Regions from separate parts of the Homo sapiens genome. Here region 2 is linked to region 1. A link means that fine-mapping ties the variant in region 1 to the expression of a gene that starts in the linked region. Tissue or cell type: thyroid. Region 1 holds a variant in brackets; the other region holds the start of a gene. All regions are shown on one strand. Distances are from middle to middle. Region 1 has its middle 8.7 kb from the start of LDLRAD2. Region 2 holds the start of USP48 (ubiquitin specific peptidase 48).

Region 1 (8,331 bases):
GCTGACTCAGAGAATATATGATGCCCAGCCCCAGGAGTACAAGGGCATTGTAAAAGAAATAAAATTTGAAATGCACGAAGTCAGAAATAGTGTGTGGAAAATCCTTCCAAATACACAGCTCACATGAGTAAGATATTTTATAGCAGTTGCTCCAAATTTAACAACAATCATTGAGTTAAATAATCTTACCAACAATGAATTACAAAACTGAAGGAAAAAAATTCCTAAACTATCACTAATAAAAAACTAATTTTGGGCTGGGCACAGTGGCTCACGCCTGTAATCCCAGTACTATGAGAGGCCGAGGCGGGCGGATCACGAGGTCAGGAGATCGAGATCATCCTGGCTAACACGGTGAAACCCTGTCTCCACTAAAAATAAAAAAAATTCTCCAGGTGTGGTGGCGGGCGCCTGTAGTCCCAGCTACTCAGAAGGCTGAGGCAGGAGAATGGCGTGAGCCTGGGAGGCAGAACTTGCAGTGAGCCAAGATCGCGCCACTGCACTCCAGCCTGGGCGACAGAGCGAGACTCCGTCTCAAAAAACAAAAAAAAACAAAAACAAAAACACACAAAAAAACTAATTTTGATCAATCATGGCAGAGGAAAGACTGAATTATCTTTCCAGTCCTGCTATAAAAATATCCTGGCCAGGCGCGGTGGCTAACACCTATAATCCCAGCACTTTGGGAGGCCAAGGCGAGCGGATCACGAGGTCAGGAGTTTGAAACCAGCCTGGCCAACACGATGAAACCCTGTCTCTACTAAAAATACAAAAAAAATATCTGGGTGTGGTGGCAGGTGCCTGTAATCCCAGCAACTCGGGAAGCTGAGGCAGGAGAATCGTTTGAACCCAGGAGACGGAAGCTGCAGTGAGCCGAGATCACGCCATTGCACTCCAGCCTGAGCAACAGGGCAAGACTCGCTCTCAAAAACAAAAACAAAAACAATCCTACTGCCCAGGCACAGTGGTTCATGCTTGTAATCCCAGCACTTTGGGAGGTGGAAGTGGGAGGATCGCTTGAGGCTGGGAGTTCGGGACCAACCTGGGCAACAGAGTGACCAAACCCCATCTCTACAAAAAACATAAAAATTAACCAAGCGTGGTGGTATGCATCTGTAGTCCCAGCTCCTTGGGAGGCTGCAGCAGGAAGGTTGCTTGAGCCCAGGAGCTCAAGGCTGCAGTGAGCTATGATCGTTCCACTGCACTCCACCCTGGGCAACAGAGCAAGACTCCATCTAGCAAAAAAAAAAATAGAGAAAATACCATACAGTTGCTGTCACATAAAGAATCAAAAAGTGTGCAGCCAAAAAAAAAAAGTAAGCAAAAAAGGCCAGGTGCTGAGGCTCACACCTGCAATCTCAGTGCTTTGGGAAGTTGAGGTGGGAGGATTGCTTGCGCCCAGGAGTTTGAGCTCAGTCTGGGTAGCATTGTGAGACCCTGTCTCTATTTAAAAAAAAAAAAAAGTATTATAGAAGAATGTTAAGCAGTTAATAAAAGTTTGTTATTATTTTGGATTTTATTTTTTGTCTTATTTGTCCGTTTTTTACATTTCAAAACTTGTTGGGATTTTTTCTCATTCTAAATAAATATTCACTTTCAAACCAGGTTTTTGTTTTTTTTTTTTTTGAGATGGAATCTCGCTCTGTTGCCCAGGCTGGAGTGTAGTGGCACAATCTCGGCTCACTGCAGCCTCTGCCTCCCAGGTTCAACGAATTTTCCTGTCTCAGCCTCCCAAGTAGCTGGGACTACAGGTGCACATCACCACACCCAGTTAATTTTTGTATTTTTTGTAGAGACGGGGTTTCACCATATTGGCCAGGCTGGTCTCGAACTCCTGACCTCAGGTGATCCACCCGTCTCAGCCTCCCAAAGTGTTGGGATTACAGGCATGAGCCAGCACATCTGGCCTCAAACCTGATTTTGTGTTAATAATTTCATATTTTAAAGAGGGCCCCCAAATTGTTTCTGCTTCAGGACCCACAAAATGTGGCCCTCCAGGACCTCAGAGACTGGTAGGGGCTTCAGATTAAACAAACAAACAAAAAACAAATCAATAAATAAATTGCAACCCTAACTATAACAGGAATGTGACATACCTCAGGAAGTCAGGAGAAGCTTCCCAGAGGAGATTTTTGAGTTGGGCCATGAAGGATGCATATGAGTTTCCGTGCAGAAACTACGCTAAATGCATTCCAAGCAGAGGACCCAGTATGTGTCATGGTCACAGAGGAGCTCATTCTGGGAACAGGTTGGTATGGCTAAACCCTGCTGCACAGAAAAGTGATAGAAACGACAACAATATTAACGACAATAGGCCAAGTGAGCCAAGATCATGCCACTGTACTCCAGCCTGGGCAATAGAGGGAGACTTTGTCTCAAAAACAAAACAAGGCCGGGCGCGGTGGCTCACACCTATAATCCCAGCACTTTGGGAGGCCGAGGCGGGTGGATCACGAGGTCAGGAGTTCAAGACCAGCCTGGCCAAGATGGTGAAACCCCGTCTCTACTAAAAATACAAAAATTAGCCAGGTGTGGTGGTGGTTGCCTTTAATCCCAGCTACTCGGGAGGCTGAGGCAGAGAATTGCTTGAACCCGGGAGGTGGAGGTTGCAGTGAGCTGAGATCACACCACTCTACCCCAACCTGGGCAACAGAGTGAGACTCTGTCTCAAAAACAAAAACAAAAACAATACTAGTAACTTCCTGGCCCCTTGATCAGCCTCTGTGCTGAAATATTCCTACCTTTAATGACTAGGGACAAACACCTCGTACATCCTTTCGTATTTCTAGAGACTACTTCTGTTTTTTTTTTTGGTTTTGTTTTGTTTTGTTTTGTTTTTGAGATGGAGTCTCACTCTGTTAACCAGGCTGTAGTGCAGTGGTGCGATCTTAGCTCACTACAACCTCTGCCTCCCAAGATTGGCTGATCTTCCCACCTCAGCCTCCCAAGTAGCTGGAATTACAGGCATGTGCCACCTCACTCAGCCAGAGACTACTTCTTGAGTGATTACAGCATGCCAAGCACTGGCTTTAAGTTTGTCATATGCTCTATCACACATAATCTTCACAATATGTCTCAATGACCCTGCAAAGAGGGCATTCTTTTGGAAACCTCATTTAAATGATAAGAAATCTGAGGTAAGGGGGTAGAGTCTTCCCCTGAGCCACACTTCCCAGCCGTATGACCCTTAGGCAAGTGACCTGATCGCTCTGTGCCTCAGGTTTTTAATCTACAAAATGGAGACAATACTGAAGTATCTTACTGGGAAGATTAAAATGGAAAAAAATACGTATGCATTCATTTTTCAAATTTTACTAACCTCTGTTTTAAGCACTGAAGAAATTTCAGGGAACAAAATAAACAAAATTTCTGGGCCAGACATTGCGGCTCATGTCTATAATCCCAGCACTTTGGAAGGGCAAGGTAGGAGGACTGCTTAAACTCAGAAGTTCAAGGCTGCAGTGAGCTATGATTGTGCCACTGAACTCCAGCCTGAGTGACAGAGCGAGACCTTGAAAAAA[AT/T]AAAATAAAATTTTTCTAATGTTTTAGAACTTACATTCCAGTGGAGGATAAATGAGTAAGATGTTTGATATATGGAATAGTAATAAATACAAAGGAGAAAATACACAAAGCATGGTTGGCAGGCATGTCAGAGGGGTGTTGACATTTTGATAGGATAGCCAGGGAATGTCACACTGAGAGGGGCCTTTTGAGTAGAGACCAGAAAGAAGCCAGGGGACCAGTCATGCAGTTATTTGGAGAAAGAACATTCTAGGCAGAGGCAATAGCAAGTGCAAAGGCCCTGAGGCAGGAATGTGCCTGGCACAAGCAATACATGCGGAACGAAGGCAGAGATGCAAAGAGTGATAAAAGATGAGTCAGATAATGTCAAGCCCTAGAGGTCATTGTAAAGACTTTGGCTTTTTCCGCTGGGCGCGAGGGCTCATGCTTGTAATCCCAGCACTTTGGGAGGCCAAGGCGGGTGGATCACGAGGTCAGGAGATCGAGACCATCCTGGCTAACATGGTGAAACCCCGTCTCTACTAAAAAAATACTAAAAATTAGCCAGGCATGGTGGCGGGCACCTGTAGTTCCAGCTACTTGGGAGGCTGAGGCAGGAGAATGGCGTGAACCTGGGAGGCGGAGCTTGCACTGAGCCGAGATCGCGCCACTGCACTCAAGCCTGGGCAACAGAGCAAGACTCCGTCTCAAAAAAAGAAAAAAAAGATTGCTTTCATGTATTGGCATATATACGTGTGTGTGTGTGTGTGTGTGTGTGTGTGTGTGTGTGTGTGTGTGTGTATTTTTTTTTTTTTAGACAGAGTCTTACTCTGCTGCCCGGGCTGGAGTGCAGTGGCACGATCTCGGCTCACTGCAACCTCCACCTCCCAGGTTCAAGCAATTCTCCCTCAGGCTCCCAAGTAGCTGGGATTACAATCATGCACCACAATGCCCAGCTAATTTTTTTTTTGTATTTTTAGTAGAGACGGAGTTTCACCATGTTGGTCAGCTCTTTATATGGTTTTTGAGACAGGGTCTTGCTCTGTTGCCCAGGCTACATTGCTGTGACGCGATTACAGCTCACTGCAGCCTCTACTTCCTGGGTTCAGGTGATCCTCCCACCTCAGCCTCTCAAGTAACTGGGACAACAGGCATGCACCACCATACCCGGCTAATTTTTTTGTATTTTTTGTAGAGATGGGGTTTCGCCACGTTGCCCAGGCTGGCCTTGAACTCCTAGGCTCAAGCGATCCTCCCAGTTTGGCCTCCCAAAGTGCTGGGATTATAGGCTTTAGGCACCTTGCCCGGACGGCTAATTTAAGCTGATTTATTCTTCACAGTAGTGCCATAAAGTGGGTACTCTTATCATCTCCATTTTGCAGAGGAAGAAGCTGAGGCACAAAGATGTTAAATGCAGAAATATTATGTAAGTAGGAAATGGGGAAGCAACAGTGTTCCAGGCAGAAGGAGAATCACACACAAAGCCTAGAAGGCCGGGGACAGCCTGCCTTTGCTGGCTTTTATGCAGCAACCGGAGAAAGTACCTTCTTCTGGCTACACTGGGCTCATATCCCACACACGCCAATCAAGTGTTAAGCTTCAGCCACAGTGGAAGGGACACAGCCAGGATTTGAACTCAGAGGCCATCTCACTTCCAAATCCATGACAACCATGTCAAGTAAGTTTTCTCAATATTGAGTCACGTGGGGAGAGAGTTCTTCCCTTTCTGTTACCCATATTTTTCTGGTTTTTTGGGTTTTTTGAGACAGAGTCTCACTCTGTCACCCAGGCTGGAGTGCAGTGGCATGATCTTGGCTCACTGCAGCCTCCGCCTCCCAGGTTCAAGCAATTCTGCCTCCTCCGCCTCCCGAGTAGCTGCGATTGCAGGCGTGCGCCACCATGCCCTGCTATTTTTGTGTTTTTAGTAGAGATGGGGTTTCACCATGTTGGCCAGGCTGGTCTCAAACTCCTGGCTTCAAATGATCCGCCAGTCTTGGCCTCCCAAAGTGCTGGGATTACAGGTGTATGGCCACTACATGACGGCCATATACTGACAGAGGTTGTTAATCCCCTCACAATACATAATTCAAGGATGAAATAATGAGATCACAGACATTTTTACTAGATTAGAAAAAGAAGGCATCATTAGGCAAACCTACGTCCCTACAAGTCACTAGTGTGGCCAGAAGGAAAATGAAAATTGACAACAGACAACAAAAAATACAAATATAACGTGCAAAATAAAATAAATGTACAAAAAATGTAGTGAGCTCTTATCTAACACATTAGAAATCACAGAAAGGGGTCAGGTGCTGTAGCTTATGCACATAATCCCAGCACTTTGGGAGGCCAAGGCAGGAGGATCACTTGAGTTCCAGTTTGAGACCAGTCTAGGCAACATGGTGAGACCCTGTCTCTACCAAAAAGGCTGGGTGCGGTGGCTCACGCCTGTAATCCCAGCACTTTGGGAGGCCGAGGCGGGCGGATCACCTGAGGTCAGGAGTTCGAGACAGGCCTGACCAACACGGTGAAACTCCGTCTCTACTAAAAATACACAAATTAGCCAGGCATGGTGGCACACGCCTGTAATCCTAGCTACTTGGGAGGCTGAGGCAGGAGAATCTCTTGAACCCAAGAGGCAGAGGTTGCAATGAGTCAAGATCGCAGCACTGCACTCCAGCCTGGGTGACAGATCGAGACTCTGTCTCAAGAAAAGAAAAAGAAAAAGCTTCTACAATTAATGAGATTATTTGGCTATTAGAGAAAACTTATACTAAGCTGAATATTGTTTTACAATGTATCAAGTCACCAGGAAAAAAATCCACAAATTTCCTTGAGGATCAGATATCCTTCAATGAACTGAATTGGGTAGCAAGACATTTTACCCTGAGCACCTATACTAATAATGTAAACAAAGATTTCAATGACTCATGAACATGCTGATTGGTCACTCTGAGTCAGATTTTGAAGGTTAGGCATGGGATCATTTCTTTGTCAGTCTACTGGACACAGAAATTTCTGATACAGAAAACTAGCCCCTGGCCATGTGTGGTGGCTCACACCTGTAATCCCAGCATTTTGGGAGGGCGAGGCAGGCGGATCACTTGAGGTCAAGAGTTCGACAACGGCCTGGCCAACATGGTGAAACGCCGTCTCTATTAAAGATACAAAAATTAGCTGGGCATGGTGGCAGTTGCCTGTAATCCAAGCTACTTAGGAGGCTGAGGCAGGAGAATCACTTGAACCGGGGAGGTGGAGGTTGCAGTGAGCCAAGACCACACCATTGCACTCCAGCCTGGGCAATAAGAGCAGAAATAAATAAATAAATAAATAAATAAAACTAGCCCCACAGAGAAAAAGGGCACTGGTGACATCCTTGCATTACAGGATGCAGAGGAACTATTGGTAGCCCCAAAATAAGAACAAAGCTACTCATCCTAACATGAGCTAGACTCAGTTCTGATCAGACAAAGGGAGTAGCCCAAGTATTACCCACCTAGAATGGAAATGGAACATAATGGAAAGGACAATGCAGGGTCCCAATGATACATCAAAGGTGCATGAGAGGCCAGGTGCGATGGCTCAGTTCTGTAATCCCAGCACTTTGAGATACTGAGGTGGGTGGATTGCTTGAACTCAGGAGTTTGAGACTAGCCTGGGCAACGTGGTGAAAACTCATCTCTACAAAAAAAGAAAAAAATTAGTCCAGGCGCAGTGGCTCACGCTTGTAATTCTAGCACTTTGGGAGGCCGAAGTGGGCAGATCACGAGGTCAGGAGATCGAGACCATCCTGGCTAACACGGTGAAACCCTATCTCTACTAAAAATACAAAAAATTAGCCGGGCGTGGTGGCAGACGCCTGTAGTCCCAGCTATTCAGGAGGCTGAGGCAGGAGAATGGCGTGAACCTGGGAGGCGGAGCTGGTAGGGAGCCGAGATCACACCACTGCACTCCAGTCTGGGCAACAGAGCGAGACTCCGTCTGAAAAAAGAAAAAAGAAAAAAATTAGCCAGGTGTGGTGGCATGCACCTGTAGTCCTAGCTACTCAAGAGGCTGAGGTGGGAGGATTGCTTGAGCCTGGGAGGCAGAGGTTGCAGTGAGCCGAGATTGCGCCATTGCACTTACACCTGGGGGACAGAGCCAGCAGACCCTGTCTCAAAAAAAAAAAAAAAAAAAAAGTGCATGAGGAGGTAGTGTCTTAGCTGTTGCTAGACTTGCTCTGTGAGCAGAGAGAATAGGAAACACCTTGACCACCACCCCTAGAGACAGCAGCTTCCTCCTGTCTGAGCTGGCACTGGGGCACAGGTGATGTGCGTGGTTCGTGGATGTGAATGCCTCACTCATACCACAGGAATCAAGCAGAAAGCAGCAGCAGCCCTAAATTCATCACAGGTGACACCCTGGCAGGTGGAGGGCCAGAAAAGTCATCCCAGTATAATGAATTACAATCAATGAGGCTGGTCACGGTGGCTCACACGTGTAATCCCAGCACTTTGGGAGGCAGAGGTGGGCAGATCACCTGAGGTCAGGAGTTCAAGACCCGCCTGGCCAACAAGGTGAAACCACTTCTCTACTAAAAATACAAAAATTAGATGGGTGTAGTGGCGGGCACCTGTAATCCCAGCTACTCAGGAGGCCAAGGCAGGAAAATCGCCTGAGCCTGGGAGGCAGAGGTTGCAATGAGCCGAGATCATGCCACTGCACTCCAGCCTGAGCAACAGAGGGAGACTCCGTCTCAAAAAAATATATTAAAAAAAAAAACAATGCAATTGCCGATAAGTCATAACTTACAGAAGGAACATCCCAGTCTGATCCATGGGTGGTAGCTAA
Region 2 (8,331 bases), 22 kb after region 1:
AGATATACCGGTCAGGTCAACATCATCAAGCTGTAGCAAGTCCTCATTCTGTCCAAGGCGTTTGAACCAGAGTGACTCTATCTTGAATGGGGGCTGGGTAAAATAAGGCTGAGACCTACTGGGCTGCATTCCCAGGAGGTGAAGACATTTTTTTTGCCTGAGTTTCCCACCGTCGCCTGGGATGGAGTGCAATGCCACGATCTTGGCTCACTGTAACCTCCGCCTCCTGTTCAAGCAATTGTCCTGCCTCAGCCTCCTGAGTAGCTGGGATTACAGGTGCCCGCCACCATGCCTGGCTAATTTTTGTATTTTTAGTAGACCCAGGGTTTCACTATGTTGGCCAGGCTCATCTCGAACTCCTGACCTCGTGATCCGCCCACCTTGGCCTCCTAAAGTGCTGGGATTACAGGCATGAGCCACCATGCCTGGCCTAAGGCATTCTTAGACACAGGATGAGATAGGAGGTCTACACAAGATACAGGTCATAAAGACATTGCTGAGAAAACAGAATGCAGTAAAGAAGCTGGTTAAAACCCACCAAAACCAAGATGGCCATGAGACTGACCTCTGGTCGTCCTCACTGCTTATTATATGCTAATTATTATACGCTAATTATTATACATTAGCATGCTAAAAGACATGCCCACCAGTGCATGACAGGTTACAAATGCCATGGCAAAGTCAGGAAGTTACCCTATATGGTCTAAAAAGGGGAGGAGGCCAGGCGCGGTAGCTCACACCTGTAATCCCAGCACTTTGAGAGGCCGAGGTGGGCGGATCACCTGAAGTCCGGAGTTCGAGACCAGCCTGACCAACATAGTGAAACCCCGTCTCTACTAAAAAATACAAAAAAATTAGGCGGGCGTGGTGGCAAAAGCCTGTAATCCTAGCTACTTGGGAGGTTGAGGCAGGAGAATCGCTTGAACCCAGGAGGCGGAGGTTGCAGTGAGCCCAGACCACACCATTGCACTCCAGCCTGGGCAACAAGAGCAAAACTCCGTCTCAGGAAAAAAAAAAGTCTTCTCTGCCTCACTATACAAAATGCAAATCTCCATTATAGCACTCAACAGCTGTATATCTTCAGTGGGTACTTTGAATAAAGGTCTTCCTTTTTTTGTTTTTTTTTTTGTTGTTATTGTTGTTTTATTGTTGTTGTTATTGTTGTTTTGTTTTGTTTTTGTTTTTTTTTTGGAGACAGAGTCTCGCTCAGTCGCCCAGGCCGGAGGGCAGTGGCGCGATCTCCGCTCACTGTAAGCTCCGCCTCCTGGGTTCCCGCCCTTCTCCTGCCTCAGCCTCCAGAGTAGCTGGGACTACAGGCGCCCGCCACTACGCCCGGCTATTTTTTTTGTATTTTTAGTAGAGAGGGGGTTTCACCGTGTTAGCCAGGATGGTCTCGATCTCCTGATCTCGTGATCCGCCCGCCTTGGCCTCCCAAAGTGCTGGGATTACAGGCGTGAGCCACCGCGCCCGGCGGCAAGGTCTTCCTTTCAAGCCATAACTCTCACCTGTCCCTGTCTCAGAAATTGTGGCCCTCTCACGCCAAGCTTTTCTCTTCTGTGCCTTTGCTCCTTGTGGTTTCTTTTTTTCTGGAATGGTGTCTTTCTTCTATCCTGGATAAGTCCAACTCACCCGTTAAAAGCGGGCTTCGGAATTACTTCTGGGAAGCCTTTTCTCAAGTACCCCGAAGCCTCCCAAGACTGGGATGGGGATCTTTGTATTTCTACCGCTCACTCCCTAACCCACTTCCAAGGGCAGGGACCACATCTTACTTTCTTCTGCCTTCAGCGAATTTTTTTGTTTTTTTTGAGACGGAGTTTTACTCTTGTTGCCCAGGCTGGAGTGCAATGGCGTTATCTCGGCTAACCACAACCTCCGCCTCCCGGGTTCAAGCGATTCTCCTGCCTCTGCCTCCCGACTAGCTGGGATTACAGGCATGCGCGACCGCGCCTTGCTAATTTTGTATTTTTAGTAGAGACGGGGTTTCTCCATTTTGGTCAGGCTGGCCTCGAACTCCTGACCTCAGGTGATCCGCCCACCTCGGCCTCCCAAAGTGCTGGGATTGGATCCTTGAGCCACGGTGCTCGGCCCAGTGAATGTTTATCTAAAGAATTCAGCCTAAGGTTTTCCAGCAGGCAAGCAGCTGAGTCAGAAGTTAGCGCTTAGATTCTGGCAGAGCTCTAATTCAAATTCAAAATTCTTAAATATCCTCACTTTAGTAGAGTTCTTTACAGTTTGCAAAACAATTCTCATAAAGCTACTCTTTATGTCCTGGGGCAGGAGTCGCAGAAAGGAAATGTTTTAAACCAGGAGCTAGAGAGGAACTAGAAAATCCTGGCATAGAGGTAACAGTCTTGAGAAGGGAGCCAACAGCAAACATGACCTTGCGCACCAGAGAAACTCCACCCTGGCACCTCGGACCCCCGCCCGCACAGTCTGCGGCGCACTGAGCACTCCCACCTCGAAGACTACAAATCCCAGCATGCCTCACAGTCAGTGGCAGGACGCAGGGCATGCCGGGACACGTAGTCCCACCCTAGCACGGGAAAAGGCCGGAAGGTCCCATGACGTCAGGAGGGCTCGGGAAAGGGGTTCGGAACCGGTCTAGGCTCAAGTTAAATCTCCCTCTAAAGAGCCAACACTGGTTTCTTTGGCGACTCGGTTTCTACTCTAAACAGGTCCCGCTCCACAGTCTGGGCGGGCCTGTGTGTGCGTTGAGTAGCCTCTAGCGTGAAAACTTCATGGTTAAAAGGGAAGTACCGGAGGCAAGAAATAGCTTTCGAGGCACTGGTTTGTTAGAGTAGTGGTACGTAGTGCGCCGCCCTGAACGGGGGCTGAGACGCTGCTTTTCCAGAAGTGCCAGTGAGGACGTGGCAAGACCGCCTCGGACGTACGCTTCCTCTACCTCAGCCCGTCGGGTTAGGGGCGCGGGAGGCGCAGAGGCTGCTGGGAACGCGCATGCGCTCAGCGCGGCGGGGAGTCCACCTTTAACGTCCGCGGGCGCGGGGTGTGTCGGGTGTCGACGGCGGCGCTTTGCGGCCGGTCGTGCGGGTCGGGCGCGGGCGGGCGCGGCGGCAGTGGCGCGCACAGGTGATTGACTGGCCAGCTGCCTGAAGGAGCGCCAGGTCCTCCTTGCTGGCAGGTGGCGAAGCCCATTGGGGCGGCGGTGCAGACCGCGGCGGCGGCTGCGGCGGTCTGGCTCGGGAGGCGTTCCTGGGGCCAAGGCCATGGCCCCGCGGCTGCAGCTGGAGAAGGCGGCCTGGCGCTGGGCGGAGACGGTGCGGCCCGAGGAGGTGTCGCAGGAGCACATCGAGACCGCTTACCGCATCTGGCTGGAGCCCTGCATTCGCGGCGTGTGCAGGTGAGGCCCGCGCACCGCGCCTCGCGGGCTCCTCGCGCCGGACCTTGGAAAGCCCGGGCGGGGTAGGGGAAAGGAAGACGGCAGCCCTTTGCGTGCATTTGGGAGGCGCGGAGCCGAGCGAGGTGGAGTTTCCCCCTTTGCGCCGTCTGCGCGACCTGGGAAACGCAGGCTTCCCGGGCTGTGCGCGGAGGTGATGCTGGCCAAAGCACTTTAGGAAGGTTTGGGTTCCCATCCAGAAGATGGCGGTGGAGATGAAGGCAGGAGCTGAGAGCTTAGCAAGCGTTGATGGTTGGGGTATCTTGGCCACAGCACGGCTCTTTCGTTTGTAAAAAGGAACTTTTTGGAAGTGAGCTTCATCACAGTGTATCTTGTTGGTGTTGACACCGAAGGCCTGATCATCTTAGTATTATTTTTGTAGAGGGCAGCTTTAGAAAAAACTGTGGTCAGCCTACGTCATCGATACCCTGCACCCCCGTTGGCCTTCCCTCACTCGTTAATCTAGTATTTTTTTTAAGCCTTTCTTTGGTCGTTCTGGTTCGACACCAGTTTACCGAGTACCAAGTTTAAGCTGTGATAGTGCTGTCCTTCACGTCTGCGCCGCCCTTGAACTTTACCTTTCCTTAACCCCCTCATATAGATTGAATCCTTAGGCTTTGCTCCCGTTTATTCCCTTTTTTCCACCTTGTAACGCGGGAACTATAGTTTTTGTTTCAGAATGTTGTTGAAATTGACTTGGCCAAGCCGGGCATGCTCAGTAGCCGTCTTTCGGCAGGCATTTAGGAAATGCTTTCTGGAGTTTTTACATTCCGCTGGGGGATCCGGAAGGAATGGAAGTCATGGTCTCTGGCTTTGGAGCTTAAAGTCTAGTATGAGAAGTGAAATAAGTTAGGGAGTTTCTATAAAGCAAACGAATAAGTCCAAGCTCTGGGCGTCTGTCTCACAAGGAGGGTAAATCTGACTTTAACAGTAAGTTCTGGAATGTTTGAAGTCTGTGTATAATAGAAATAATCAAGCTTCAGTCAGTTTCTCAACGTAATTAGTTTCCAGACTAACCAAATAATGTAAACTACTAATAGTTCTGGTGGTTTTTGAGACAGGGTCTCACTCTGTCACACAGGCTGGAGTGCAGTGTCACGAGCTCGGCTCACTGCAACCTCCGTTTCCCAGGCTCAAGCGATCCTCCCACCTCGGCCTCCGGAGTAGCTGGGATTAGAGGCACGGGCCACCACGCCCGACTCAGTTTTGTATTTTTAGTGGAGACGGGTTTTCGCCATGTTGGCCAGGCTGGTCTCGAGCTCTGGGCTCAAGCGATCTGCCCACCTCTTCTGGGATTACAGGCGTGAGCCACCATGCTGGGCCAATTTCTGATATTTATTTATTTATTGAGACGGTGTTTCGCTCTTATTGCCCAGGCTAGAGTGCAATGGCGTGATCTCGGCTCACTGCAACCTCTGCCTCCTTGGTTCAAGCGATTCTCCTGCCTCAGCCTCCTGAATAGCTGGGATTACAGGCATGCACCATCATGCCCGGCTAATTTTTTTTTATTATTTTTATTTTTTGTATTTTTAGTAGAGACAGGGTTTCTCCATGTTGGTCAGGCTGGTCTCGAACTCCTGACCTCAGATAATTTGACCGCCTTGGCCTCCCAAAGTGCTGGCATTACAGGCGTGAGCCACCGCCCGCCAGGCCGATACTTTTTTTTTTTTCGAGACAGCGTCGTGAGACGCTGGATAAATTTAAAAAAATAAATTTTTAAAATAAAAATTTTAAAAGAAAAAAGAATAGGCCGGGTGCGGTGGCTCATGCCTGTAATCCCAGCACTTTGGGAGGCCGAGATGGGCGGATCACGAGGTCAGGAGTTCGAGACCAGCCTGGCCAGCATGGTGAAACCCCGTCTCTACTAAAAATACAAAAATTAGCCGGGGGTGGTGGCGGGCGCCTGTAATCCCAGCTACTGGGGTGGCTGAGGCAGGAGAACCCTGGAACCCGGGAGGTGGAGGTTGCGGTGAGCCGAGATCACGCCACTGCACTCCAGCTTGGGCAACAGGGCGAGACTCAGTCTCAAAAAAAAAAAAAAAAAAAAAATTATCTTATCTTGGCTCTGTATGCCCTGTATGTTCCGCCTCTAAATTTCCCTATTCTGGACATTTCATATAAATGGAATCCTAAAATACGTGGACTTTTGTGACTGATTTCCTTTACTTATGTATTTAAGGGTCATCCATGTTGTAGCATGTTTCAGCACTTCATTTCATTAAAAAAATACCTGGGAAATACATATGACAGTGTTTACCATTTTAAAGTGCACAATTCGGTGGGTTTCAGTACCTTTATAGTGTTGTACAACCATCACCACTGTCTGGTTCCAGAACTTTTCATTATCCTAAAAGGAAACTGAGCATCTGTTAGTCACTTCCCATTTTCCCCCCTCGCCCAGCCCCTGGCAACTGCTAATCTACTTTCTGTCTCTGGATTTCTCTATTAATATTTCATAGCAATGGAATTATACAGTACGTGGCCATTTGTGTCTGGTTTCACTTAACGTAATGTTTCCAAGGGTTATCCCTGCTGCGCATGTGTCACTACTTTATTCCTTACGGCTGAGTAGTATTCCATTTTATGGATAATACCACATTTTATATATCTATTCATCAGTTGAGGGACATTTTGATTATTTCCACCTTTTGCTTATTTTGAGTAGTACTTCTCTGAACATTTGCATACAAGTTTTGGTCTGAACATCTGATTTCAGTTCTTTACCTGGGAGTGGAATTACTGGGTCATACACAGTCAATTCTGTGTTTAACTTAACCGAACCGCGAAACTTCCACAGTGGTTGTACCGATTTACATTCCCACCAGTGATGTATGAGGGTTCAAATGCTTCATCATCCTCATAAACAGGTACTATTTTCTGTTTTTCTGGTTAGGCCCTCCTACTTGGGTGTGAAGTGATGCATCTTTGTAGTTTTGATTTGCATTTTCCTAGTGACTAATGAGTTCAGCGTCTTTTCATGTGCTCGTTGCCTCTTTTCCTTTTATTGATCAATAATATGCCATCATATCTCTGTATCTACCACATTTTTAATTTGCATTCATCTGCTGATAGACATTTGGGTCATTTCTACTTTTTGGCTATTATAATGTTGCTATGAACATTAGTGTAGTAGTTTTTGTGTGGGCATTTATTTTTATTTCTCTTGGTTATAGAGCAAGAAGTGGGATTGTTGGGTTGTGTGGTAACTTTTAACTTTTTATTATTATTATTATTTTTTTTTTGAGACGGAGTCTCTCTGTGTTGCCCAGGCTGGAGTGCAGTGGCGCCATCTCGGCTCACTGCAACCTCTGCCTCCTAGGTTCAAGCGATTCTTGTGCCTCAGCCTCTGAGTCACTGGGATTACAGACGCCCACCACCACACCCGGCTAATTTTTTGTATTTTTTAGTAGAGACTGGGTTTCGCCAAGTTGGCCAGGCTGGTCTTGAACTCCTGACCTCAGGTGATCCACCTACCTCGGCCTCCCAAAGTGCTGGGATTACAGGCTTGAGCCACCGCACCCAGCTCTTTTAACTTTTATTTATTTATTTATTTTTAATGAGGTCTCACTCTGTAACACAGACTGTATTGCAGTGCAATCATGGCTCACTGCAGCCTTGAACTCCTGGGCTCAAGCAATCCTCCCGCCTCAGCCTCCTGCCACTACAGGCACATGCCACAACACGAGGCTAATTAAACAAAATTTTTTTGCTGGGCGTGGTGGCTCACGCCTGTAACCTCAGCACTGTGGGAGGCCAAGGCTGGCGGATCACGAGGTCAGGAGATCGAGACCATCCTGGCTAACGTGGTGAAACTCCGTCTCTACTAAAAATACAAAAAATTAGCCGGGCATGGTGGCGGATGCCTGTAGTCCCAGCTACTCGGGAGGCTGGGGCAGGAGAATGGCATAAACCCGGGAGGCAAAGGCAGGAGAATGGCACGAACCCGGGAGGCAGAGCTTGCAGTGAGCTGAGATACGCCACTGCACTCCAGCCTGGGTGACAGAACGAGACTCCGTCTCCAAAAAAAAAAAAAAATTTGTGGAAATGGAGTCCCACTTTGGTGCCCAAGCTGGTCTTGAACTCCTTGCTTCAAGTGATCCTCCTGCCTTGGCCCCCTGAAATGCTTGGATTGCATGAATGAAACTGTTCATGGCCTTTTTTTGGCTTTTTTTTTTTTTTTTTTTTTAAGATGAGGGTCTTGCTATGTTGTGTAGGCTGTCCTTGAACTCCTGGGCTCAATCAATACTCCTGCCCCAGCTTCCCTGGTAGCTGGGACTGTAGGCACGAACCACCATGTCTGTGTTTAATATTTTGAGGAATTGTCAGGTTACTTTCCAGAGTGGCTGCGCTATTTTACATATTCACAAGCAGTATATGAGGATTCCAATTGCTCTATGTCCCTATACTTGTTACTGCCTTTTTTCTTTTAGCCATCCTAGTGGGTGCGAAGTGGTGTCTTATGTTTTGATTTGTGTTTCATTGATGACTAATCACGTTAAACATCTTTTTGTGTACTTATTGGCCATTCATATATCTTTTTTGAGAAATGTCTGTTTAAATCCTTTGCGTGCTTTTAAATTGAGTTGCCTTTTGTTATTGAGTTGTGATCTTTTTTTGGTCTTGTTTTTGTTTTGTTTTTTTTTTTCAGACGGAGTCTCACTCTGTCACCCAGGCTGGAGTGCAGTGATGCCATCTCGGCTCACTGTAACCTCCGCCTCCCAGGTTCAAGCGATTCTCCTGCCTCAGCCTCCCGAGTAGCTGGGACTACAGGCGCACACCGCCACGCCTAGCTAATTTTTTTTTTTTTTTTTTTTTGGTATATTTAGTAGAGACGGGGTTTCACTATGCTGGCCAGGCTGGTCTCAAACTCCTGACCTTGTGATACGCCCACCTCAGCCTCCCAAAGTGCTAGGATTACAGGCGTGAGCCACTGCATC

What was found. PIP is the estimated chance that this variant, and not a neighbour inherited with it, causes the effect.
Region 2: it holds the start of USP48, and the variant in region 1 is fine-mapped to the expression of USP48 in thyroid (GTEx, PIP above 0.99).

Annotation. Positions count from the first base shown.
Region 1 is chr1:21,799,404-21,807,734 of GRCh38, reverse strand. No RefSeq gene overlaps it. Among named protein-coding and RNA genes, the nearest start is that of LDLRAD2, 8.7 kb to the left of the region's middle. The variant AT/T (reference allele first, on the strand shown) is at 3,522.
Region 2 is chr1:21,777,851-21,786,181 of GRCh38, reverse strand. It overlaps USP48 (ubiquitin specific peptidase 48), which reads left to right and starts at 3,033. Exons shown (of 27, transcript NM_032236.8): 1 at 3,033-3,358. The coding sequence starts at 3,225. RefSeq lists silencers at 348-522, 2,910-3,269 and enhancers at 2,650-2,699, 2,445-3,215, 3,640-3,739, 3,216-3,987, 4,300-4,349.